Homo sapiens: one gene and its partners. The protein of the gene in region 1 interacts with the protein of each later gene in a biochemical or structural test. Each region holds a gene or a part of one and is shown on either strand. Other genes may lie near its edges.

The links.
Region 2: of the proteins of TRIM55 (region 1) and OTUB2, one has a biochemical effect on the other in vitro, tested with the Homo sapiens proteins (one large-scale study listed by BioGRID).
Region 3: of the proteins of TRIM55 (region 1) and STAM, one has a biochemical effect on the other in vitro, tested with the Homo sapiens proteins (one large-scale study listed by BioGRID).
Region 4: of the proteins of TRIM55 (region 1) and ESPL1, one has a biochemical effect on the other in vitro, tested with the Homo sapiens proteins (one large-scale study listed by BioGRID).
Region 5: of the proteins of TRIM55 (region 1) and USP8, one has a biochemical effect on the other in vitro, tested with the Homo sapiens proteins (one large-scale study listed by BioGRID).
Region 6: of the proteins of TRIM55 (region 1) and ATXN3L, one has a biochemical effect on the other in vitro, tested with the Homo sapiens proteins (one large-scale study listed by BioGRID).
Region 7: of the proteins of TRIM55 (region 1) and USP5, one has a biochemical effect on the other in vitro, tested with the Homo sapiens proteins (one large-scale study listed by BioGRID).

Annotation. Positions count from the first base shown.
Region 1 is NC_000008.11:66,144,129-66,147,628, forward strand, and holds part of TRIM55 (tripartite motif-containing protein 55), read left to right. Parts: intron 1-3,500. UniProt on the Homo sapiens protein: E3 ubiquitin ligase that plays an important role in regulating cardiac development and contractility, muscle growth, metabolism, and fiber-type differentiation.
Region 2 is NC_000014.9:94,025,148-94,029,139, forward strand, and holds the start of OTUB2 (ubiquitin thioesterase OTUB2), read left to right. Parts: upstream 1-1,192; 5' UTR 1,193-1,390; coding exon 1,391-1,393; intron 1,394-3,992. UniProt on the Homo sapiens protein: Hydrolase that can remove conjugated ubiquitin from proteins in vitro and may therefore play an important regulatory role at the level of protein turnover by preventing degradation.
Region 3 is NC_000010.11:17,703,151-17,706,650, reverse strand, and holds part of STAM (signal transducing adapter molecule 1), read right to left. Parts: intron 2,221-3,500; coding exon 2,133-2,220; intron 1,682-2,132; coding exon 1,627-1,681; intron 1,064-1,626; coding exon 910-1,063; intron 1-909. UniProt on the Homo sapiens protein: Involved in intracellular signal transduction mediated by cytokines and growth factors. Upon IL-2 and GM-CSL stimulation, it plays a role in signaling leading to DNA synthesis and MYC induction. May also play a role in T-cell development.
Region 4 is NC_000012.12:53,288,799-53,292,298, forward strand, and holds part of ESPL1 (separin), read left to right. Parts: intron 1-291; coding exon 292-505; intron 506-605; coding exon 606-796; intron 797-1,286; coding exon 1,287-1,414; intron 1,415-1,548; coding exon 1,549-1,671; intron 1,672-2,042; coding exon 2,043-2,198; intron 2,199-2,891; coding exon 2,892-3,062; intron 3,063-3,185; coding exon 3,186-3,290; intron 3,291-3,479; coding exon 3,480-3,500. UniProt on the Homo sapiens protein: Caspase-like protease, which plays a central role in the chromosome segregation by cleaving the SCC1/RAD21 subunit of the cohesin complex at the onset of anaphase. During most of the cell cycle, it is inactivated by different mechanisms.
Region 5 is NC_000015.10:50,511,405-50,514,921, forward strand, and holds the end of USP8 (ubiquitin carboxyl-terminal hydrolase 8), read left to right. Parts: 3' UTR 1-3,017; downstream 3,018-3,517. UniProt on the Homo sapiens protein: Hydrolase that can remove conjugated ubiquitin from proteins and therefore plays an important regulatory role at the level of protein turnover by preventing degradation. Converts both 'Lys-48' an 'Lys-63'-linked ubiquitin chains.
Region 6 is NC_000023.11:13,318,147-13,321,259, reverse strand, and holds ATXN3L (ataxin-3-like protein), read left to right. Parts: upstream 1-1,206; 5' UTR 1,207-1,325; coding exon 1,326-2,393; 3' UTR 2,394-2,613; downstream 2,614-3,113. UniProt on the Homo sapiens protein: Deubiquitinating enzyme that cleaves both 'Lys-48'-linked and 'Lys-63'-linked poly-ubiquitin chains (in vitro). Acts as a deubiquitinating enzyme for the transcription factor KLF5, playing a role in the regulation of KLF5 stability.
Region 7 is NC_000012.12:6,858,650-6,862,149, forward strand, and holds part of USP5 (ubiquitin carboxyl-terminal hydrolase 5), read left to right. Parts: intron 1-820; coding exon 821-892; intron 893-1,501; coding exon 1,502-1,589; intron 1,590-1,716; coding exon 1,717-1,842; intron 1,843-2,303; coding exon 2,304-2,457; intron 2,458-2,793; coding exon 2,794-2,968; intron 2,969-3,500. UniProt on the Homo sapiens protein: Deubiquitinating enzyme that participates in a wide range of cellular processes by specifically cleaving isopeptide bonds between ubiquitin and substrate proteins or ubiquitin itself.

The DNA of each region.
Region 1 (3,500 bases):
GCAACAGTTCAACAATGGCTTTAGGTCAATGTTAAATGTTACCTACTCACTTCTAAGGAAACAACCAAATGACCATTTGATTTTTTTTCTTTACATCCAGAAATGTTGGCATTGGTTAGAAACAAATATCCCACCCATCATCATCTTACCATTTCAATATGGGAGGGATGATCTTCACTTTATAAAATCATCCCTTTTTGGTATATTGCATCCACACTGCATTCTCCCTAGAAATGGGATGAATTTTATTTTCATTAAAATATTATAGACAACTTTAATTTGGTTCTCCCAAGAAGCCAAGAAATATAACTGTCCTAGCAGACCCAGGAGGAAGGCTGTGCAGCAGCCAGAGGCTTTGCATCAGAGTATACCCGGAGACCAATACCTACTTCATTTATGGTGGAGGTATACTTCACTTGCTAAGCACACTCACACAGGTGCACACACAGAGGATGTAGGAAGCACAGACATCAAAAGGAAGAAAATGGAGACTATTTGAAAAGATAAACTCGAAAGCTCAAAAAGTGTATATCTTGATTGAATTACTGTCCAGAGAAGAGGGGAGGTGTATGGCTCCGAATTGGTCTTAAAGATACATACCTTTTTACTCAAGTAAATGAAAAAGTATGCTAAAAGCAAGGAGCAGTCTTTGAGATGAGGAAGTTTTTGTGGAGAAGAGACAAATATGGTTGCTATCATGCTTTTGTAGGTAACAACAGTCCTTTAAAGTGTTCTGTCTGCAGACGTTTTCACAATGCAAAAGTCCACATTTTTTCCTATTCCATTTTTCAGGCTGCTAGAAAGTCACTGCTGAAAGTGTTGCAGATTCACATTAACAAAGGCACAGTAGGTACTGAAATTCAGAGTCATCACTGTCAGTAGCTAGGTGGCCTCTGAGAACATTTTTTTTTCATGGCACATATCTGTTCCCTCATCAGCTTAGAGGGCAAATTGATAACCTGAGGTGTTTATTGTTCCCTGACTTTCACAGCACTTTGATGGTCTTGAAGCCAAGAAAGATTAGGGGACATCTAAGTTAGTCTCTTGTGTGTGGGTTCTACCTCAAAGAGTGTGAAAAAATAGGAGACTTCATTTCATGGAGTATTTCACATTTGAATATGACATTAGGTTAACCTGAACATTTTGAGTTAATTTCTAAAAGTCTGTAAGTTCCAATTTCGTAATTCCAAAGAAGAGGCATGTATTTTTGCCGTTTCAGAAACAGATTTATCTAACTCTTACCATTTTTTGCATAGAATTATATTAAAAGCTAATTAAACAAGAGAAAAAAGTTTTTTCCATTAGGAATTAGAAAATATAATGATTTTATATTTATCATTTATGATACTTTTTTTTGTTCATTATTCTCCAAAACAATGGAAAATTATGGCAGGTTATTAGATCATACAATGCCAGGTACAAAGTCAGTGGTTGGTGAATTTTGTTGAAAGAACTAGGAATATAATTCTGAAACAATTTAAGATGCCTTGCCTTTAAAAAATCTACCTTAAGCATAGTGAATTTGGGTTTTGTTTTTTTTTTCTCTTTTGGAGGTGGAGTCTCACTCTGTCACCCAGGCTGGAGGGCAATGGCGCGATCTTGGCACACTGCAGCCTCCACCTCCAGCCTTGGCCTCCCAAAGTGCTAGGATTACAGGTGTGAGCCACTGCACCTGGCCAGTACATTTGTTAAAAGGCATATATTCCATTTACAAGCACTTCATATAATTTTTTAAAGTTACTTAAAATATGGGCCCAGCTGGGTGTGGTGAGAGTAGCAATGACCCAGGAGTTCAAAGACCTTGACTGTAGGCCAGGCACCAATAATAAATGGTCGGATGGCCTTGAGAAAGTGACAGCTCTGCTGGGTTTCAGTTTCCACATGAGTGACATGATTGATTTGGAGCAGGTTACTTCTAATATTCCATGCAGCTTCAAAATTCCACAACTGAATAATTCAGGTTAAGGAATTTGTACCTAAATTTAATAGACACTGATCCAGTACCAATATATGCCAGGTAATATTATAAGCACTTTACAAAGTATTTAATGATATAATAATTTTAATAAAGCATAGACCGCATATGGGGTAGCATTTCCTGCACTATGAAGTATAAACAAATGATAGTAGTTTTACTAACATTCAATATAAGTTATTTAAAAAAACAGAATAGAAATAAAATAATGCTTGGAATTGCAAGTAATATAGGAATGAAATTAGTTATTCCATTTAAACTGCCAAAAAAAATTATATGGTCAAAATAAGTGATTTAATCTTTATTTGACTTGAGAGAGTACACTAGATTACACATGCTTCACATCTGTCTCATTGTAAATGACTTGGCTGCCATAAACTTGAATGTTCTCACATATTAAATCACATAGGAGAAAATTTTTGTGAATCAAAGACTTTCTACCTGTATTACATCTTAATATAATACTCATATTATAAATGTTTCAAGTGCACAACTCATTTGGGAGAAACAAGCTGGAAACCATTATATGATCACAGTAGAGCTTCTAAATATCAGAGAGGCTTATTTCATGTGTACAGTGGGCACCTGGTTGCCTGAAGGTTGGAACAAAAGATAATACAGTGAAAGAGAGTTTGATTGGAAAGCTACTAATAGGTTTCAGTTTCTAGGCCTGGTTGAACAGTCCGACTCTCAAGCTAAAGGGCTGGAAATGAGTGGAAATTTGTCAAGCCAGGCAATTTCCACATCTTGACATGCTGCATGGGCCCTTGTTCCATTACTTTCACAACTGCTAGGACTTCAAGCATTTTCATCCCCTCCTCAACCTCCTTTACTCCTATTCCTCCTTAAGGTCAAGTTCAAGTACTAATTCCTCTGAGAAACTCTTCCTGAGTCAACATTTCTGGCTCCCCTCAAAGTTCCTCCACCTACACAAAGGGTTGGACAAAGATTCCATAAATGCTTCTAAAGCATCTGGTATAAATCTCTAAAATATTTACATTATTCAGCCTACCATATTGAATTACATTATTGGTCTATAGTCTTTCTCAGTGAACTGTGAGCTCCTTGAGAATAGGAACTATGTTAATTCTTTTTTGGATCCCCAGAGTCTTGACACAAATGACATGCATTGTTTGTTAAATCCATGAATGAATGGGTGGATGACAGTGGTAAGGCATTTACTATTAAAATAGTTGGCACCACTGGATCTCCATGCATTATAATTTGGTTGGGAACTGTGATGAGAATTGACTGTTCCAAGGAAGGCAATGGAGTAAGGGATGTATTTCTTGCACATTTGCAGAGTATCTTCATAATCAACAATTTGGTTTAGGTCATTCTCCCTGACTCCATACTGAGAATAGTAGAGAAATTGAGAGGAAATGAAACACATTAAAAAAAAAATCTATTCCGCCAGGATTGGTGGCTCACGCCTGTAATCCCAGCACTTTGGGAGGCCGAGGCGGGTGGATCATGAGGTCAGGAGTTTGAGATCAGCCTGACCAATATGGTGAAACTCCTTCTT
Region 2 (3,992 bases), on another chromosome or scaffold:
CCCCCGAAAACAAATGGGGGTCAGGGGCGGAGGCAGGTAACACAGCCCCTGTAGTCACATGCAGAGTGAATTCGAAACCAGCTCTGGAGTCACACTGCCTGGGACTGAATCCCACTTCAGTGCTATGTGACTAAGGCAAGGAACGTAAACTCTCTGTACATGTTTCCTCATCTGTGAAACAGGGATAATAATAACAGGACCTACCCCCTTAAACCAGTTGTGAGGAAATTAAGTAAGATAATTCTGTATATGTGGAGAGTTCAGGATAGCGCCTGATACATAGTAGGTGTTCTGCATAACTGTGTAAATAACTGTAAAAAATTACCTGCTATTGTTACTGCTCCTTGAGCCTCCATTGACCTCACACTCCCTGCCCAGGACATGATACATGCTTGGAAGACTCAGATGTCTGTATGCCCAGAGCCTAGCCCAGTACCTGGGACTTACGTAGTAAGAGTGGGGCGCGGGGGGCGGGGGCGGGGGGCAGCAGCAGGAAGGGGAATTGCTCAATACACGCTCCTGGAAATATTAATTTTTTGAAGTGGATGCATGCAATGCACTGAGCCCCCCTCCCCTACAAACTCTCCCTCCCACACCCAAGCAGCTCCTCCAGGACTCAAGGGCTGGTGAATGAATCTTTGAATGATAAATATTCCTATTTTGATGTCCATTAATAATGAGCTTGTAGGCAAGATGAGTCATCTAGACCTGGTTCACGGATATCCCTACAATTCCAGAGCCACAGAGTCAACGATCCTGGACATTCATTCATTCAACAAACATTAACTGGGTGCGTGGCAACCTACTGATTCATGAGTTGGAAGAGGATAAAATATTATATAGAAGCCATACTTAATGTTATTGGACACGTGTTCCCTAAGCGCCTATCCTCTGATCTTGTGCAAACTATACTTATGTGACCTTGTTTATGAATTAATGACGGCCAGCTAATCCTTCAGAAGACTCCAATTTTAGGTTTGCGCAAAAGCCCTTCAGCCTTTACAAACGAGGACCTGTCTTTCTGGGTTGAGCTAACTCCTCTGCTAGTTAAAAGCTTTCCTGTGTCTTTAAAAGGGGGAGGCATCCTATCAAATGGACCCTAACGCATAGGCTGAAGGCACGTGAAGTCCCACCCACTTTCTATGACGTCCCGCGTCCCGGCTTCTGATTGCCCGCCTGAGACGTCAATCGCAGGGCGTGTGTCTTGCTGGGACACAGTGGAGGTCTAACCTTTGGTTTGCGGAGCGGTCGGGTGTATTCTCCGCCGCCCCCACGCCCTCGAGGTCCCCGCCACCGAACCAGCGGCGGAGCCCGCCCGCGCCTCCCGCGGCATTCCCGCACCGGATCGCTCCTCGCTGGGGCGGGACCTGGCCTGGCGGCTCTGGTCACTATGGTCAGTGATCGTGGGGGATCGCGAAGGGGGAGCGGGCAGGGGGCGCGGTGGGCGGGGTCGCTGCCGGAGCGGGTGCACCCGCGGGACGGGGGTCGGACGCGAGGCTCAGCCCCCAGCTCGCCCCCGCCGCTTTCCGACCCCCTGAAATACGGAGTCCGGACGGATACTGAGGGCCAAGTCGCGCCCCCCTGTACCCCGTGGATGTGCAGCTGAGGAGGTCCAGCTCGGCCCCGAGCCCCCGCCCCCAGCGTGTCCGCCCCAGGTGGCCCGGGGCGCCGCCTCGACGGCGCTGGGTGGGCGCCCTCGACGGAAGCAGGGACAGGGAGGCTGCAGCACTACGGGTCGCCTCCTCTTTGTTAAGTAGCCCCCCAGTCAGCAGTCCACGGCCCCACCCACCCGACGGCTCGGCCGTCAAAGACCTCCTGGCCCCTGCCCCAACCCCAAGGGAGGATCTAGGGGTTGCACGGGGCACCAGGTCGTCTGCTCCGTGGGCGACTAGACCGTCTCCATCTTTGGAGTCAGGACCCACCTAGAGAGGATGCCTCAAGTTGTGAGGCGCATGAGTTAGGGGTCGGGGAAAAGAAAATACTCAGGAATCCCTGATGGAGAGCCTTGTCTGCGCAGAACGAGGCCCAGAGACCCTCTGAGCCAGGCTAACCCTGGGCTTGGGCAGGTGGGGAAACTGAGGCCAGACAGGGCAGGGCTGGTACTGATTGTGGTGGACCTGGGGCTTGAACCCAGGCTCTGGACTCTCAGTTCAGTGCTCTTTGTGTTACATCGGCTCACCTTCCAGGTTGCCGTGGGGTCAGGCATCCTGCAGGGGACTGGGTGGCATGGCTGCCTAAGACCCTTCAACCCTGAGCAGGGGGAGCCTGTGGAGTGAGGGCTGGGTGGCTTGAGTCGGGGCCACACAGCCCCAGGTTCAAGTCTCACTTCCACCTGTTGGAAAGCGAAGAGGCTTTGGTTGGTCCGCTCTCCCCCTCAGCACCGTTTTGCACATCTGTGTCATGGGAACCATGTGATATGATTAGCTGGAGCTTTTCCTGTGACAACAGAGTCCTGGAAATGGGTGTGCACAGATGCCTGGTTCTTCAAGCTTAGCCTCCTCTCTCCTATGACTGGGCAGGAAAATGGGTCACCACGGCAGCATGCTGCCGGGCTGGGGCATGGGTCAAAGCCTGGTCATGGCCTGGCACGATCTGGGTGTGGCATAGGCAGCCAGGGCACTCGAGCTGGGACTGTCCTTGCCAAGCCAGCCTGCTGCCTGGGGCATAGCTGGGGGCCTCTGGAGCATCTGGAAGCACCAGCTTCCTGCTTCCACTTGGTGCCCAAGGGTTTACCTGGTTGAGCTGCTCCTGGAAGGCAGCCCAGGTGTTTCTGCATCACCCACCAGGGAGTGGTGGAGCTGGGGTAATGATGGGCTTAGCCACCCGGGAGCTGGAGGCTGGCATGCCCTCTGGCCACCACTCGGCAGCTGAGAGCACAGCAGAGGCGGTAGCTGCTCTTTGTGCCATGCAGTGAGGCCGCTCACTCTGCTCCCTATCTGCCCTGACTCAGGAGACTGGAAGTTAGATGGCAGATGGGGTCCAAAGCCCTCACCCCTCACCGGGGGCTTGGGTGCCTTGGCGAAGGATGAAGTGGTTAACCCACTAAAATATGACGTCTGTCTGGTAATCACAGGGGTGGAGGCCATGCAGGGTCTTTTCCCTTCCCTGCACATGGCATTTATTGAGCACCTACTGCATGCGGGGACCATACTGGGCCCTGTGCTGCATGGTGGGTTTTTATGTTGAACTTGCATTGTGTGGATGGTGGTGACAGAAGGAATATCCTTGGAAAATACAGCATCTTCTTTACTTTCCTGTTTCTACATCACTGGGCTAAGCTTGAGGAAGGGCGCCCCGTGGAAGACACAAAGACACTTGGGAAGGTAGGGGTGAGACAAGGACCAGACCTCTGGCAGGGACTGCAAATAGCTAGGGTTCTCGTGCACTCAAGGTGCATTTCATGTTTGACGAATGAATGAGTCAGACATAAGCAGGAAAACCGCAGGGTCCTATTGTGCTTTGTTCTGTTATTTGTCAAACAGGCCCCCAGTGGGCACCTTTGTCAGGCCTGTGCTGGGCACTGTGACACTGATGAGAAAGACAAGGTGCCTGCCCGCTGTAGGAGCTCACTGCCTGCTGGCCAAGACAGCTGGACACAAGCAGTGTCTGAGCTACAGGTCATGCCTAAGAGGCCTAAGGACATTGGGAACACAGTGAGAGGTCAATATGCTCTGAGGGAGTGGGGGTGTTGGAAGGTTCTGCAGAGGAGGTCTTTTGAGCTGAGTTGAAGGATGTATATGAGTGTTCAAGAAGGATTTGGGAAGGGCACATTCCTTTTGGCGGGTGCGGGGGGACAGTGGGCTATCAGGCCTTGAAGCATGGTCAAGAATAGGGGATTTTGGCAAAGGTGAACAGCCTCTGAAGATGCAAGGAGATTGAGGGAGGCAGGGAAATTGAGTCTAGAAAATTTGGTGGGGTCAGGATGTTCTGTGCAGGGCCTCACTTGCTGTGCTGTGGGGTTTGGGTTTTATTCCACCAATGAGGGGGAAACC
Region 3 (3,500 bases), on another chromosome or scaffold:
TCCCAGCACTTTGGGAGGCCGAGGCGGGTGGATCACGAGGTCAGGAGATCAAGGCCAACCTGGCTAACACGGCGAAACCCCGTCTCTACTAAAAATACAAAAAAATTAGCCTGGCGTGGTGACGGGCGCCTGTAGTCCCAGCTACTCAGGAGGCTGAGGCAGGAGAATGGCGAGAACCCGGAAGGCGGAGCTTGCAGTGAGCTGAGATTGCAGCACTGCACTCCAGCCTGGGCCACGGAGTGAGACTCCGCCTCAAAAAAAAAAAAAAAAAAAAAAAAAAAGGGCCTCAACCCTGAGGATTCTGATTCAATAGGTCTGGAGTGGGATGGATATATCTGTAATTTTTTTCAAAAGTGTGATGGCTGATTCTGCTGCATAACCCTGTATAAAAGCTATTTCCTTTAAACAACAACAACAACAAAAAACTATTAGCATAATTAGTATATTATATGCTGTAACTGCCAAGTAAAAAAATTCCGTTAAACTTTATTTTAATTTTAAACATTAGTTTTAGAAAGTTTCAAACAGCTATTCCAAATAATCTCAAATGCATTTGAGAATTTATTTATTTATTTATTTATTTTAGAGACAGGGTGTCGCTGTTGCCCAGGCTAGACTGCAGTGGTGTGAACACGGCTCACTGCAGCCTCGACCTTCTGGGCTCAAGCTATCCTCCCACCTCAGCTTTTCGAGAGCAGGGACCAAGGAACATGCCCCAGCCTGGCTAATTTTTTTTTTTTTTTTTGGTAGAGACAGAGTCTCACTATGTTACCCAGGCTGGTCTTAAACTCCTGGTCTCAAGCAATCCTCTTGCCTTGGCCTCCCAAATTGCTGAGATTACAGGCATGAGCTACCACACCTCACTGTGCATTTGAGAATTTAAAACAACATGGGCTTCTAAAAGCTTACCTGAGAACCAGAAACACCAGATGACTGCATATAATATGGCTGATTCTGTAACTTTGCATACATGGAATACATCGGATCTTCGTTCATTAACTTGGTATATAAGGAAAGGGCCTCCATCACTTTCACATTAAGTTCTGAGAGTTCTGAATGTTTTCTGAAACATGACACAATAATTTGAAGCATAGCTGTTACTAAAATGATATAATGCTCTAAATAATGATACATCAAAATATCAAAAATGGCAAAAAGTAGTACTAGTAGACATTATTAAAAATTTCACTTATAACAAAAATATCCTGCATTTTAGCCCTGAAGCAACCCAAACTGTTTAAGGTTTACGTGCTGTGCTAAGGGAACTCCGTCTTATCGTACCTGACTGTACCAGAAATATCTTGGTTTCCCTAGTTACTAACATATGGGTCATTTGTGAGCTCTGGTAATGCCACTTCAGCAAAGAGAATTACATAGCTAGCCCTTGTTTTTAAAACGACCTATCTACGCTGGTCCTTTTGACTATATTGCAAAGGTCGATCAAATCCTCACTTTAAAAAAAAGGACAAATGAGTCTAATTCTCCACATCTAGCACAAGATATGTGAATGAGAGTTGGTTCCTCCACAATATTTTTTTTTTAAAAGGCAGTTATAGCCCACTTTGCAGTACAGTGATAGCTTCAGGAAAGAAGGTACACAACATAAATGCACCCATGTTCTTTTACCTATCAATATCTTCCAGCTTTTCATCAATGAGAGGTCCCATCTGGTGACACATTGCTAAAATGACAAGATGTGAAGAAATATAAGAAAGTACAAGAAAAAAAAATGTGAACCTTTGATAGATATTTGTATAATTTAAGGAATAAAAGATTTAATTTGGAGTAATAAAAATATACATTCTTTAACCTTAGTCTACAGAACCCAAAATTGATTTTCTTAAAGTATAATGGTGACAACTTAATCTAAAATATTAATCTGAAAATCTTAAAGTGCCATTTTTCATTTTACCAGGTTCTAAAATGTTGAACAGAACACTTCGTTTGGATAGAAAATTATAAGAATTCAAATTCTACCCAAGGTTTCAACTGCATATGAGAGTGAGCCTGGGTCAAGGAGAAGTGAGAAATGTTCCATTTTTAATATTATCCTCAAAACCCATTCTTTAACAGGACACCAGTTATTAACCTCTAACTACTCTTTATTTGCAAGGTAAATAGAAAAGTTTTACCTTCAAGATGAAGCAGCTCTGGTAGGTCTGGCTGATCATCACTGGGGTCTGTACTTTGCAGCATCTGTAGCAACTGGTCCATTTTATCCTACAGGAATTAAGTAGTTAATATAAAAAGCTACCAACCTTTAGGCAACTTTATGTTTTCACTTTATTATCAACTAGACAAACTTTTGAAATTCATAGTTATGGAGACTCCAATTTTGCTTTTATGTTGTCAGTGTCCCATGTATTTATTCTCTCTAGTACTGCATGAAGTCAGAGCCTTGAAAGTACTTCCTATATATTTTTGAAACTGCTCAGGAGGCTGAGGTGGGAGAATCACTTGAGCCCAGGAGGTCAAGGCTGCAGTGAGCTATGATCTCGCCACTGCACTTCAGTCTGGACAACAGTGCAAGACCCTGTTTAAATAAATAAATAAACCAACCAACCAACTGCTAACAGAGATTCTCTTAAGCGAGAAGAAATCAAGCCACATTTAAACTTACAATGCGTGAGTTCTTCCACCTCTTATGTCATGCCAGAGGATTTTGCTTTGTTTCGGAGCAGCTTTAGCTTAGCCATGCCAACAAGTGTACTATCCATCTCAAGATGGCATTGCTTATGACTAACAACTTGTCATTCCTACTTGCCCATGGTGAATACAGCAGCTGTTTCAGTAAGGCAGAGCTCAGCTGTATCACAGCTGCTCTTCTAAGTGGGACTCTTAGGGTTTATTCCACATTTTCTTTCTACCAGTGTTTCAGTTGGTCATAAAAGGAAGGAGGAAGACTAGTGGTTTCTCTATTTTCCTATTTGGGAGAGGCTGGAAGGTACCTCAAACCAGTGACACAGATCTATTTCAGAATCTTTTGTTGTACAGACCAATGGAATGAATGAAACCATTATTACATACACACATCTATACGATATATAAGTATATATGTATTTATGTTTTTTAAAAAATCCAAACAGATCTACTTTACCATGACCACTACTAAAATAATTACAAACCTTTCTCCATGCATGGTTTTTACATGGTTATGCTACTATATATAGGTACGCAGGGCAAATAAAGACTACTAATCCTAAGCAAAGTAATTATTTAAAATTTAAAAACTATGTTCTGTGTAAAAGGAAAATAGCTTGAGAAACGAATTAATCATCAGAGAGTGAAAGTGACATAAGTATGCTAAAAAAAAAAAAAACTCTTCCCAAGTCAAAATAATTCTGTTTTTTTGAAATGGATACCAATTTTCAATGTAAATTATTCACAATTTTCATTTTAAGCAGTCTTAAAAAACAAAAGCACATGTCAAGAAAGTTTGCCTACCACACACAAAAAAAGGTCAAATGAAAGTGAGAGTCCATTAACACACAGATGGTTTC
Region 4 (3,500 bases), on another chromosome or scaffold:
GTAGCCTCTGAACCTGTGTTTGAACCCCAGCACTCTGTCTATGAGCTGTGTGCAGGTCACTTAACCTCTCCAAGCTTCTATTCCTTCTGTAAAAATGGGGTTTAGGGAGCATGGTGGAATAAGTTGATGCCTGTTAGTTGCATGGCACCCCACTTGGCACATTGCCCTTCATAAATGGTAGTTGCTGTTTGCCATGTGGGAGATGAGATAGGGACTGTTCCTTCTTGGAAAGTTCCTATCAACTATGAAATAAGGAATTCAGCTGTACCAAGTGTCCTGACGTTCTTCTAGGTCTTTCTACCCTGGACTCCATCTGTGACTCCCTGAGTGTTGCTTTCCGGGGCATTAGTCACTGTCCTCCTAGTGGGCTCTATGCCCACCTCTGCCGCTTCCTGGCCTTGTGCCTGGGCCACCGGGATCCTTATGCCACTGCTTTCCTTGTCACCGAGTCTGTCTCCATCACCTGTCGCCACCAGCTGCTCACCCACCTCCACAGACAGCTCAGGTGGGTGCTGACCATCCCCAAGACTCCTGCTGGGGCAGACTAGAGAGAAGGTCCAGACTTTGAAGGAATGGGACCTCACCCCTCCCCGTGTTGCTTGCAGCAAGGCCCAGAAGCACCGAGGATCACTTGAAATAGCAGACCAGCTGCAGGGGCTGAGCCTTCAGGAGATGCCTGGAGATGTCCCCCTGGCCCGCATCCAGCGCCTCTTTTCCTTCAGGGCTTTGGAATCTGGCCACTTCCCCCAGCCTGAAAAGGAGAGTTTCCAGGAGCGCCTGGCTCTGATCCCCAGTGGTATGCGGGCAGCCTTCTGGCCGGCTCCTCTGTCCTCTTCTGCATCTTCTTACTTGGGAGCTGGGTGAAGGAGTTTTAGGCATTGGTTAGTTTACATAGATTTATGACCCTTATGTCATACCTTTTCACCTGTTAGCATCTTACATCAGGAAGGTTTGTTGTTTTTTTTAAACCTCAACTTTGAATTACCAGCAAATTCAGTGTCTTTCCTCAGAGGTGAGTTCAGATGACTGGGGTCTTCTGTGCTAACATGAAACATATTCACATGATTTGAGTGCCTCACTTTGTTAGTTGCTGTGAGGGACACAAAGTACAAGTCATGGTCTCTGTGCACAGGGAGCTATTAGAGCAAGGGAGAGCACCTTGACCTCTAGTGACCAGGGAAGGCTTCTTGATGCTGGCTTGAGTGATGGATAGGAATTGAGTGCCCAAGACAGGGAAGGGAATTCCTTTAACAGCTGAATGAGTCTGGCTGTATCCTGTGTGTCAGGGGTGACTGTGTGTGTGTTGGCCCTGGCCACCCTCCAGCCCGGAACCGTGGGCAACACCCTCCTGCTGACCCGGCTGGAAAAGGACAGTCCCCCAGTCAGTGTGCAGATTCCCACTGGCCAGAACAAGGTAGGATTCCTGGGCCATGGAGCAAAGTTGGGCTGGATTGGGCTTCGGGTCAAGCTGCTCACATTCTGTGTTGAGGGAGGGAGAGATGGTGATCACGTGGACAAGCAGAGCTCTCACAGCCCCATCTCCCAAAGCTTCATCTGCGTTCAGTCCTGAATGAGTTTGATGCCATCCAGAAGGCACAGAAAGAGAACAGCAGCTGTACTGACAAGCGAGAATGGTGGACAGGGCGGCTGGCACTGGACCACAGGATGGAGGTGTGTGCTTCTGGGGTGGGGTCAGGCCTGCTCTAGGAATGACCCGGGGGGTCCCAGTGACTTCTCTACCAGACGGCCTGGGTCAGTGCTAAAGCCACTTCAAATCCCTTCTGGAAGTGTAGACCTAAATTTAAAAATATGTCACCTGGGGAGAACTTCAGAGCCCAGAACTTGAAGAATATATGGGAATGGATATTTAAAGATACGCAGAAAAAAAACGACTTAAACCCAACTATCAGCTTCCCAGCAGAAAGATACGTAAGACAGACATGCACATTGGAAAACGCATTTTCTCATCTCCAAAATGTCAGTGCCTGTGAGAAAGAAGCTTGGTTTCCTCTCTGACTGAAGGGTCTGCCCTCTGCATTCAGGTTCTCATCGCTTCCCTAGAGAAGTCTGTGCTGGGCTGCTGGAAGGGGCTGCTGCTGCCGTCCAGTGAGGAGCCCGGCCCTGCCCAGGAGGCCTCCCGCCTACAGGAGCTGCTACAGGACTGTGGCTGGAAATATCCTGACCGCACTCTGCTGAAAGTGAGTGAGGAAAGCAGGGAAGGGGGCCAGGCCCAGTGGCTTGCACCTGTAATCCCAGCACTTTGGGAGGCCAAGGCAGATGGATTGCTTGAGCTCAGGAGCTCGAGACCAGCCTGGCCAACATGGTGAAACCCTGTCTCTACGAAAATACAAAAATTAGCTGGGCATGGTGGCAGGCACCTGTAATTCCAGCTTCTCGGGAGGCTGTAGCAGGAGAATTGCTTGAACCTGGGAGGCGGAGGTTGCAGTGAGCTGAGATCGCCGCACTCCAGCCTGGGTGACAGAGTGAGACTCCATCTCAAAAAAAAAAAAAAGGATAGGCCCCTTGGCTTACGCCTATAATCCCAGCACTTTGGGAGGCCGAGGCAGGTGGGTCACAAGGTCAAGAGGTGAAGACCATCCTGGCCAACAGGGTGAAACCCCATCTCTACTAAAAATACAAAAATTAGCTGGGCTTGGTGGCACATGCCTGTAGTCCGAGCTACTCAGGAGGCTGAGGCAGGAGAATCGCTTGAACCTGGGAGGTGGAGGTTGCAGTGAGCTGAGATTGCGCCACTGCACTCCAGCCTGGGCGACAGAGCAAGACTCTGTCAAAAAAAAAAGAAAACAGGGAAAGGGAAGAAACTGGACTTAATCCTTTCCCAGCAGCTATCATGAATGAAGATGGTGCTCACCACCACTGTTTCCCTGCAGATCATGCTCAGTGGTGCCGGTGCCCTCACCCCTCAGGACATTCAGGCCCTGGCCTACGGGCTGTGCCCAACCCAGCCAGAGCGAGCCCAGGAGCTCCTGAATGAGGCAGTAGGACGTCTACAGGGCCTGACAGTACCAAGCAATAGCCACCTTGTCTTGGTCCTAGACAAGGTAAGGAGCTGGGGCAGAGGGGCAGTGTCTAGTGGGGAGTGAATACCAACTCATCCCCATGCCCCTTCTGACTTCTGCATATACCTGGCTGGGGACAGTAACCTCTTAGTGCTTTTTGCCCAGGACTTGCAGAAGCTGCCGTGGGAAAGCATGCCCAGCCTCCAAGCACTGCCTGTCACCCGGCTGCCCTCCTTCCGCTTCCTACTCAGCTACTCCATCATCAAAGAGGTGGGGTTCAGGGCGTAGTGTCTGGGGATGACTGGCGACTGGGGAAGACGTCAACAAAGAAGGGCAGAGAAACCTGAGAAGATAGGAGAGGGTCCTAGGAATGGCTCAGACATGGAAAGGGGCTGAGATTGTTAGAGCTTGGGCCTCTTGGTGAGACAAGCATCCTAATCGCCAGTGTCTCCTCCTCAGTATGGGGCCTCGCCAGTGCTG
Region 5 (3,517 bases), on another chromosome or scaffold:
AGAAATTTCACACTTAGGTATATACCCAACAGAAATGAAAACATGTTTACAGAAAATCCTGTACATAAATGTTCATAGCAGCATTACTGATGACAGCCAAAAGTGGAAACAAGCCAAATGTCCATCACTGGATGGATTAAGGAAATGTGGTATATCCTATACAATGGAATATTATTTGGCAATAAAAAGGAATGAAGTACAGATACATGCTATGACATGAATGAAACTTGAAAACATTATGCTGAATAAAAGAAAATAAAAACAGAAGGTCATATATTCTATGATTCTGTTTATTAAAATACCCAGAATAGGCCAGGCACTGTGGCTCACGCCTGTAATCCCAGCACCTGGGGGAGCCGAGGCAGGTGGATCACTTGACGTCTGGAGTTTGAGACCAGCCTGGGCAATATAGCAAAACCCCATCTCAACCAAAATACACAAAAATTATTGGGGCATGGTGGTGCACACCTGTGGTCCCAGCTACTCGAGGGAGGGAGGAGGGAAGATCACTTGAGCCAGGGAGGTTGAGGCTGCAGTGAGCTGAGATTGCACCATTGCACTCCAGCCTGAGCAAGAGTGAGATATTGTCTCAAAAAATAAAATAAATAAAATTTTAAAAATACGCAGAATAGGCACATCTATAGAAATATATAAAGTAGAGGCCAGGAGAAGTGGTTCATGCCTGTAATCCGAGCACTTTGGGAGGCCAAGGTGGGTGCGCCACTTGAGGTCAGGAGTTCAAGACCAGCCTGGTCAACATGGTGAAACCCCACCTCTACTAAAAATACAAAAATACACCTGTAGTCCCAGCTACTCGGGAGGCTGAGTTACGAGAATCCCTTGAACCTGGGAGGCGGAAGTTGCAGTGAGCTGAAATCATGCCACTGCACTCCAGCCTGGGCAACAGAGCAAGACTCTGTTAAAAAAAAAAAAAATAGCGAGAGATCGAGAGAGAGTGCACGTGAGAAGACTAGTAGTTGCTATGGACTGGGGGAGAAGGAACGGGTTACAGGGTTTCTTTTGGGGATAACGAAAATGTTCTAAAACTGGACTGTGGTGATAACTGCACAACTCTGTGAATGTACTAAAAACTACTGAACTGGCCAGGCACAGTGGCTCACACCTGTAATCCCAGCACTTTGGGAGGCCCTGAGATGGGCAGATCACTTGAGGTCAGGAGTTCCAGACCAGTCTGGCCAACATGGTGAAACCACATCTCTACTAAAAATATTTTTAAAAATTAGCCAGGCATGGTGGTGCACCTGTAATCCCAGCTACTTGGGAGGCTGGGGCATGAGAATCATTTGAAACCAGGGGGTGGAGGTTGCAGTGAGCCGAGATCACACCACCGCACTCCAGCCTGGGCGACAGAGCCAGACTCTGTCTCAAAAACAAACAAAACAAAAACAACAAAAAACACAACTGAACACATTTAAGGTGAATTCTGTGGTATGTGAACTATCTCTAAGAACTTCTTTTTATTTAAGTTGGGAAACAAAAAGATCATGTACAACAAACCAAAAACAAAAAAGTTATTTCTAACCCATGTAACATATAACAAGGATCTAGAACATGTAAATGACTCTTTCCAATCAATAAGAAGAAAAATAACCCAGTTTGTAAAAAATGTGCAAAAGACAAATATTTCATACAATAGGAAAAACTAAAATGAGATAATTTTGTATCCATTAGATGGCAAAAATTAAGAAGTCTGATGATCCTGGTAGGGGTATGTATTGGTATAATCACTTGTAGAAAGTTAAATATGCACATACTTTATGATCTAAGTGACCTCACTCCTAAGTATATACATGAGAGAAACTCTTATGCACATATATATGCAGGAATGTCTGCATAATGTTGTTCATGCCAGCAAAAATTTGGAAACAATGAAATATCAATAGGAAAATGGATAATTTATGATATATTCACACAATATACATCATAGGCTAGTGAAATTATAACCACATGCAACAATATGGATATATCTTTAAAATATTTAATGAAAAAGTATGCTTGGCGCGGTAGCTCACACCTGTAATCCCAGCACTTTGGGAGGATGAGGGAGGTGGATCACCTGAGGTCATGAGTTCGAGACAAGAGCGAAACTGTCTAAAAAAAAAAAAAAAAAAAAGAGTGAAGAATCAAGCCACAGAAGGTAATTTAAAAATGTACACTCAAGATTTAAAAAGAACTACAATTCCATAAGAAAAAGGCAGGCCACAGAATAGGAAAAAGAATAAAAGACTTGTTTAGGCATTTCACAAAAGAAAGTATACAAATTTAAGTAGTTATTTAAACCACAATGCCATTCTACTATATGGGCAACCAGAAGGGCCAAAACAAAACGAACAAAAGACTACCAAGTGTTAACAAGGATTTAAGGCAACTGAAACTTCCAGTCATTGCTGGTGGGGGTATGAATTGGTACAGTCGCTTTGGAAAGCTACTGAGCAGTATGTACTAAAGCCAGACATATGCGTATTTCTGAACCAGGAGTTTCACTCCTAGGTATGTACTCAAAAGAACTGTGTACACTATGTTCACCAAAAAACAAGAATGTTTATAGCAACCCTCTTTGCATTAGTCAAAAGCTAGTAATTACCCAAAAGTTCCTGAATGGTAGAATGAATTACTAAATTGTAGTATTTTCATACAATGGAATACTATACAGCAATGAGAATGAATAAATTACAATATAAACAACAATATGGATGAACATTACATAATTTTGAATGAAAGGAGCCAGACACAAAAAAAGGATATACTGTACAATTCCATTTATACGAAGCATAAAATCAGGCAAAAATCTATAAATCTGTCCTGCCAGAAGTCAGTGGTTTTCCAGACTCGAAGGCAGGTACAAGCACAGTTAGGGTGCTGGTAACATTCTGTTTAAACTCTGTTCTGCTGGTTACATGGGTATGTTCACTTGAAAATCCATCAAGTTTTATCCTCATGGTTTGTGTACTTTTCTGTATATATGTTTCACTTCAATAAAGTTTATTTTTGGTCAAGGGCAGTGTCTCATACCTGTATTCCCAGCACTTTGAGAGGCCGAGGCAGCCCGACTGCTTAAGCCCAGGAGTTCCACAGCAGCCTGAGGAACATGGAGAAACCCTTCTCTACAATTTTTTTTCTTTTTGAGATGGGAGTCTCGCTGTGTCACCAGGCTGGAGTGCAGCGGCGCGATCTCGGCTCACTGCAACCTCCGCCTCCTGGGTTCAAGTGATTCTTCCTCAGCCTCCCAAGTAGCTGGGATTACAGGCGCATGCCACCACACCCAGCTAATTTTTTTTATTTTTAGTAGAGATGGGGTTTCACCATGTTGGCCAGGATGGTCTCCATCTCCTGACTTCGTGATCTGCTTGCCTCAGCCTCCCAAAGTGCTGGGATTACAGGCGTGAGCCACCACCCCTGGCCTACAAATTTTTTTAAAAAATTAGCTGGGCATGATGGCACTTGCCTGTCGTCCCAACCACTCAGGAGGCTGAGATGCGAGAATCACTTGAGCTCA
Region 6 (3,113 bases), on another chromosome or scaffold:
ATGGTCTGTACTGTGTTTAAGGTCCACATAATCACTTAGCTAGATTCCATGAAATTCCTACAAAAATGACTAATATGAGTTTCACCATTATCTCTTGATAGGAGCTTGCAAAACCATATGGCAGCAGTAGTGGTTAGGGATACATCTTCTATACGCACCTCAAAAAATCCCATGGTGACTAGTATTGTTAGGGGAACCATGAACTCTACCTGAATCTTAAGGTTCTGAGGCCAATGTTGTAGTTAGAGACACCATCATCTCTTGACTACCTGCTGAGAAAACATATGGTGGCAACCCTGGTCAGGATACATGTCCTTCCATCTGGACCCCTGATAATTCCATGCATACACTCACTATAATCATTAGGGCAACCACTAAGTGTACTTGGACACTCAAGAGAAGTCCAAGGTCAACATAGTAGTTTCACACACTGTCTGTTCACTGGACTCCTGCAAAAATCCCATAGTTACTACTGTGGTGAGGAACTCTGTGATATCTTACCCGGATACCTGCTAATATCTTTGTCACTACTAAGTTTGAGAAAGATTGTCTCTGAACTAGAAAACAGTAAAATCTAATGGTTACTACTTTTGTTAGGCACATACATTTCTTACCTGAACACCTGTAAAAACACATGGATAAGAAAAGAGTTCAGGACATCATCATCAGTTTTCTAGATGTCTGAAGATCATTTGGTCACTCATGTTTTTCAGGTCCACATAATCTCTAACTAGGATACCAGCAAAGTCCCATCTTCATTGCCACTGTGAGTTTTATTGTCATCTATTGACTGGAACCTACAAAATTCTATGGCTATTATTGTGGTCAGTGACATCATGATAACTTAGCCAGACAGTTCCAAAATCCCATGGTGTCCATTCGGTTAAAGCCCATGTTATTTCTCTCCCAGTTACCTGCCAAATCTTCTGTTTAGTGCTGTGGTAAATTTCACCTTTATTTACTTACTAAAACCATGCTGACAAGCATAATTAGAGAGACATTATTTTTATAGGACATCTGAAATTCCAACGGGCACTACTATGGTGCAAGTCACCATTATCATCTATGGGATAACTCCAAAATCCCATATTCACTTTAGGTTTACCATCAGCTTTTGACTGGATACTGGCAAAACCACCTTGGTCACAATAGTGCTTTGTGACATACCATCTCTTACCTGAATACCTGCAAAAACCCATGGTCTTCATAAGGTTTGAAAACCTAACATCTGTTACATGGCTATCCACAAACTGCCCAGGTAACTGCCATAGCTGGGCATACAACATCTTCCGGCATACCTACAGAAACTCACGGATACAATTAACATGGATTTCATCTTTCATGAGAAACAGGAAGGTTTCCTGTGTGCTCAGCACTGTCTGAACAATCTATTGCAAGGAGAATATTTTAGCCCTGTGGAATTAGCCTCAATTGCACATCAGCTAGATGAAGAAGAGAGGATGAGAATGGCAGAAGGAGGAGTCACCAGTGAAGAGTATCTTGCATTTTTACAGCAGCCTTCAGAAAACATGGATGATACCGGTTTCTTCTCCATTCAGGTAATAAGCAATGCCTTGAAGTTCTGGGGTTTAGAGATCATCCATTTCAATAATCCTGAATATCAGAAGCTCGGCATTGATCCTATAAATGAAAGATCTTTTATATGTAATTATAAACAACACTGGTTTACTATTAGAAAATTTGGAAAACACTGGTTTAACTTGAATTCTCTCTTGGCGGGTCCAGAATTAATATCAGATACATGCCTTGCAAATTTCTTGGCTCGATTACAACAACAAGCATATTCTGTATTTGTTGTCAAGGGTGATCTGCCAGACTGTGAAGCTGACCAACTCCTGCAGATCATCAGTGTCGAAGAGATGGATACACCAAAACTTAATGGAAAAAAATTAGTAAAACAAAAAGAGCATAGAGTCTATAAAACAGTCCTTGAAAAAGTATCAGAAGAAAGTGATGAGTCTGGAACATCAGACCAAGATGAGGAGGATTTTCAGAGGGCCCTTGAACTAAGCCGCCAAGAAACCAATAGAGAAGATGAACATCTCCGCAGTACTATTGAGTTAAGCATGCAAGGTAGTTCCGGAAACACATCGCAAGATCTTCCAAAGACATCATGTGTAACTCCTGCTTCAGAACAGCCGAAGAAAATAAAAGAAGACTATTTTGAAAAGCATCAGCAGGAACAGAAGCAGCAGCAACAACAGTCAGATCTGCCGGGCCACAGTTCATACCTACACGAAAGGCCAACAACAAGTTCGAGAGCAATTGAGAGTGATCTCAGTGATGACATCAGTGAAGGCACAGTACAGGCCGCTGTCGACACCATTTTAGAAATTATGAGAAAGAATTTGAAAATCAAAGGGGAAAAATAATGCCTTTAAAAATAATTTAGATAGTCATACTTTCCAACATTATCCTGTGTGATTATACTGTAGGATCCATTTTGGTCATCTGTCAAAGAGATGAGGAAATAAGGCTTTTAGACAGTTTGCAAACAAAATGACGAGAGAGATGTGGGACTAAATAATGATCGTTCAACTACTAGCCAAGGAGACATTCAGCAATTAATTAAATTTAAATTAGCTTTCAAAATGTTCCTTTGATTTTTGAGCCTGCAATATCTAATGTGTCTAAAATTGGGTCATTTTTCATGGATCTTTTTGTATACCAACGAATTAGCTCTTGCCATAGAACTTTTTCCATATAGTCTCTTCTATTGTAGATAATGTGGCTCATTTTGGTTGCTTTTATTTCTCATGAAACAATTTAACCTTTCAGGGAAGTGTCTCTTGTCTGTGTTGATCATAGTAACGGTTTTAGAAGGATAAACAGTTCTCCCTCCAACTATGTACTGTGCGCTTAAGTATATTCTTATGTTATTTCCTCTGATCACAATTTCTGCTACCTGGTCCTTAATTATTTTCCACAAGTCTTTCGAAATATGGTAATATTTTCTGAGGTTTTGTTTTTTACGCCCTCTGTGGTAAGATCATTATTTCATGACTCTGGTGCATTACTCTTTCTTTGTTTGGGGGTGGGGTGATGGGGGCAAAGACGCTCTGTCGCCCAGTCTGGACTGCAGTGGCCCAACC
Region 7 (3,500 bases), on another chromosome or scaffold:
TCCTGGTCAGCACCCTCTGGGCATACTCCTCCTTCAGCTTCCCTCAGCACCTCTGTGTTTGATTCTAGTCTTAGAGTAGTTCCTATCGGCTGGGTGTGTTGGCCCACACCCGTAATCCCAGTACTTCGGGAGGCCAAGATGGGAGAATTGCTTGAGCCCAGGAGGTTGAGACCAGCCTGGGCAACATAGCGAGACCCTGTCTTCTCTTAAAAAAAAAAAAGAATAATTCCTGTCACACTCTGGCTGACATGCTGTGAGGGGAGCAAGTTAGGGAGCTGCACCACCAGCACCCCAACACACAAACCCCACTGATAGTGCAGAGTGCCAAGTCCCAGGGCTCTGTGGCCTTCTGACAGACTCAAGGGTTAGCAGGTGGTCTTTATTTTAGGGCAGTGACATCAGATGAGCACCTAACATGGACATGTAGCACTTGGGGAGGAGGGGGGCTTGGCACACTAAGAATAAAGGCAGGTTCTCAGCAGAAATGAGTTTACTTTCGAATTTGGGGAACAATTAGAATGTGAATGCTCAGAACATGTCAACAGGTTCTGTCCAATAGAACGTGAACTGCACTTATCCTAATCCCAGGCTACCTTCCCCCTCCCCGGCTCCTCTGCCGCCGAGCGTGCTTGCACATTGGACATAGCTGAGAAGGGGAGAACAGGCAGGTTGCTGGAGAGAAGCGACTCCAAGGTTCACCCACAGCAACTCCCCACTCTTGAGGGGAGCCCGTTCACAGAGTTAGTAAATGTTTGCTTCCTTCCCTTTTCCTCGGCGCTCAGGCCAGAGCCCCTCCAACTGTCCTTCCCTTGACTTTTAGGTATGTGGATAAGCTGGAGAAGATCTTCCAGAATGCCCCGACGGACCCTACCCAGGATTTCAGCACCCAGGTGTATGTAACCAGGTCCTATGTAGGAAAGCTGTTGACAGTCATGGCCGTATACCTTCCTCCTCCCTGACCGCCTGGGGGGCACAGCACTTTAACCCCTGGCCTTTTTTTGTTTTGTTTTGTTTTGTTTTTTGAGACGGAGTCTTGTTCTGTTGCCAGGCTGGAGTGCAGTGGCGCGATCTCGGCTCACTACAACCTCTGCCTCCTGGGTTCAAGTGATTCTCCTGCCTCAGTCTCCTGAGTAGCTAGGACTACAGGCACATGCCACCACGCCCAGCTAAATTTTTTTTGTATTTTTAGTAGAGACGGGGTTTCATCATGTTGGCCAGGATGGTCTCGATCTCCTGACCTCGTGGTCTGCCCACCTCGGCCTCCCAAAGTGCTGGGATTACAGGCGTGAGCCACCGTGCACGGCCACCACTGGCCTATTAGGAGCATTCGGGTGACTGTCTTCTGGACGTGTTGTCTGTCTTGAGCTGGGTTCCTGTAGAATCTAAGGTTTTTCACGTTGTTGAGAGTTAGCTAGGGAGAGCCACGAGCAGGGGGTTGAGCTGGGGACACACAGGGTCGTTAGTTGACTGAAGTGAAATGTTTTCTTGGATATTAATGCAGGGCCAAGCTGGGCCATGGCCTTCTCTCCGGGGAGTATTCCAAGCCAGTACCGGAGTCGGGCGATGGGGAGCGGGTGCCAGAACAGAAGGTGCGTCTAGGACCCTGTCCCTTTCAGGCCCTGGGATTGTGGGGAAGCTGAGGTCTGGGAGATGTCTAAAGAAGGCCCCTGGATGGCCACTGAGCCCCAGCTGAGTCCCTGCCCTGACTCTTCCCAGGAAGTTCAAGATGGCATTGCCCCTCGGATGTTCAAGGCCCTCATCGGCAAGGGCCACCCTGAATTCTCCACCAACCGGCAGCAGGATGCCCAGGAGTTCTTCCTTCACCTTATCAACATGGTGGAGGTAAGGGCTGGCAAGATGGCACACCCCCATCTTCCTGCAATTTACTCGCTCTCCTTCCTGCCCATTTCTCCCTCTATCAGCCCCAACCCAGTCCCATCCCTGAACCCCAACAGTCTGTGTCCCTGTGAACAGTGCTTGCACCTGAGGAGGACAGTGAAGGTGATGATCCCTACCCTTGATGGGCTTGAAGCCCAATTCAGATTATGCCCAAAGACAATGATAAGAGAATACTTGCTGCTTATAAAGAAAAATACAAGCGTGTTCTAACACAGTCCCTCAGTGCAGGGATGGGGCCAGAAATGGGGAGGGGTTGGTGAATTAGGGAAGGTTTCTGCTCTGCTCTTGTGTCCCTGAGTTCCGAGTGGTAGTCTGCCTTCTCTCCCTGACTCTCCCATGAACCTTTCAGGCCCCATTCTGTTCCCTGGCTGCCCAGACCTCCCTACCCTGCCTCTTTCCCATAGAGGAATTGCCGGAGCTCTGAAAATCCTAATGAAGTGTTCCGCTTCTTGGTGGAGGAAAAGATCAAGTGCCTGGCCACAGAGAAGGTGAAGTACACCCAGCGAGTTGACTACATCATGCAGCTGCCTGTGCCCATGGATGCAGCCCTTAACAAAGGTAGGCTGCTCCATCAGCAAGGCCGTGGCACGGTGGGAGGCTAAGGTCTAGGAGGAATGCTTGGGCACCTCATGGGAGCACAGCCCAGGGAATGCCCTGCTTCACCAGCCAAGGTTCCAGTCTGGGCCACCAGGAGTAGGTAGATTAACCTCGTCCAGTGGACACTCAGCTTGTTAGCAGAGCTGCATGGAAACAGGCGAGATATATTGGACATGTGTCAGGGGTGCTTTGGAAGGGTAGAGGAACTGAAATACGGACACAGAGCCAGTAGGGAGAGGCTAAGGAGGCAAAGAAGCAGCACCCTCCGAAGGATCCACCAACCCATTCTGTCACCAGAGGAGCTTCTGGAGTACGAGGAGAAGAAGCGGCAAGCCGAAGAGGAGAAGATGGCACTGCCAGAACTGGTTCGGGCCCAGGTGCCCTTCAGCTCTTGCCTGGAGGCCTACGGGGCCCCTGAGCAGGTCGATGACTTCTGGAGCACGGCCCTGCAGGCCAAGTCAGTAGCTGTCAAGTAAGTCCTCTGGTCGGGGCCTGAGGCTGTGGGTCTATGGCAGAGCTATCCCAGAGGATACTTCTGTCTCTTCCCTGTTCTTTCATCCCTTTGTGGTTGGAACCTCAGGGTTGAATCAGTTGGGCTGGTAATCTGGCCCTGATGGAACCAAGGGGCCCTGGTAGGGGGGACACGGGTACTGACTCTATCTGTCACCTTGTCCTGCCCCAACCACTCCCTCTTCTGTGGCACAGGGTCTCTTTGTAGTGTAGCCTCTCTTCATTGCCCCTCAGTCATGGCTGAGCACAGGCACTTAGGATCAGCTGTGGGCAGAATTTGGATTTCCAGCAAATAGCCACACTTTGAGCCTAGCCATTGGCACCTGGCATGGGTGTGAGACCTGAAAAAGGGCTTTGGTCTCGGGGAGTCAGCTACCCAGCCCTTTGCTGCTCCTGCCAGTGAAACAGCTCTTCCTCTCTGTGTGGGTTTTTTTTTTTTTTCTATGTGTGGGTCTTGCTATGTTTTTTTCCCTACGTGTGGGTCTTGCTATGTT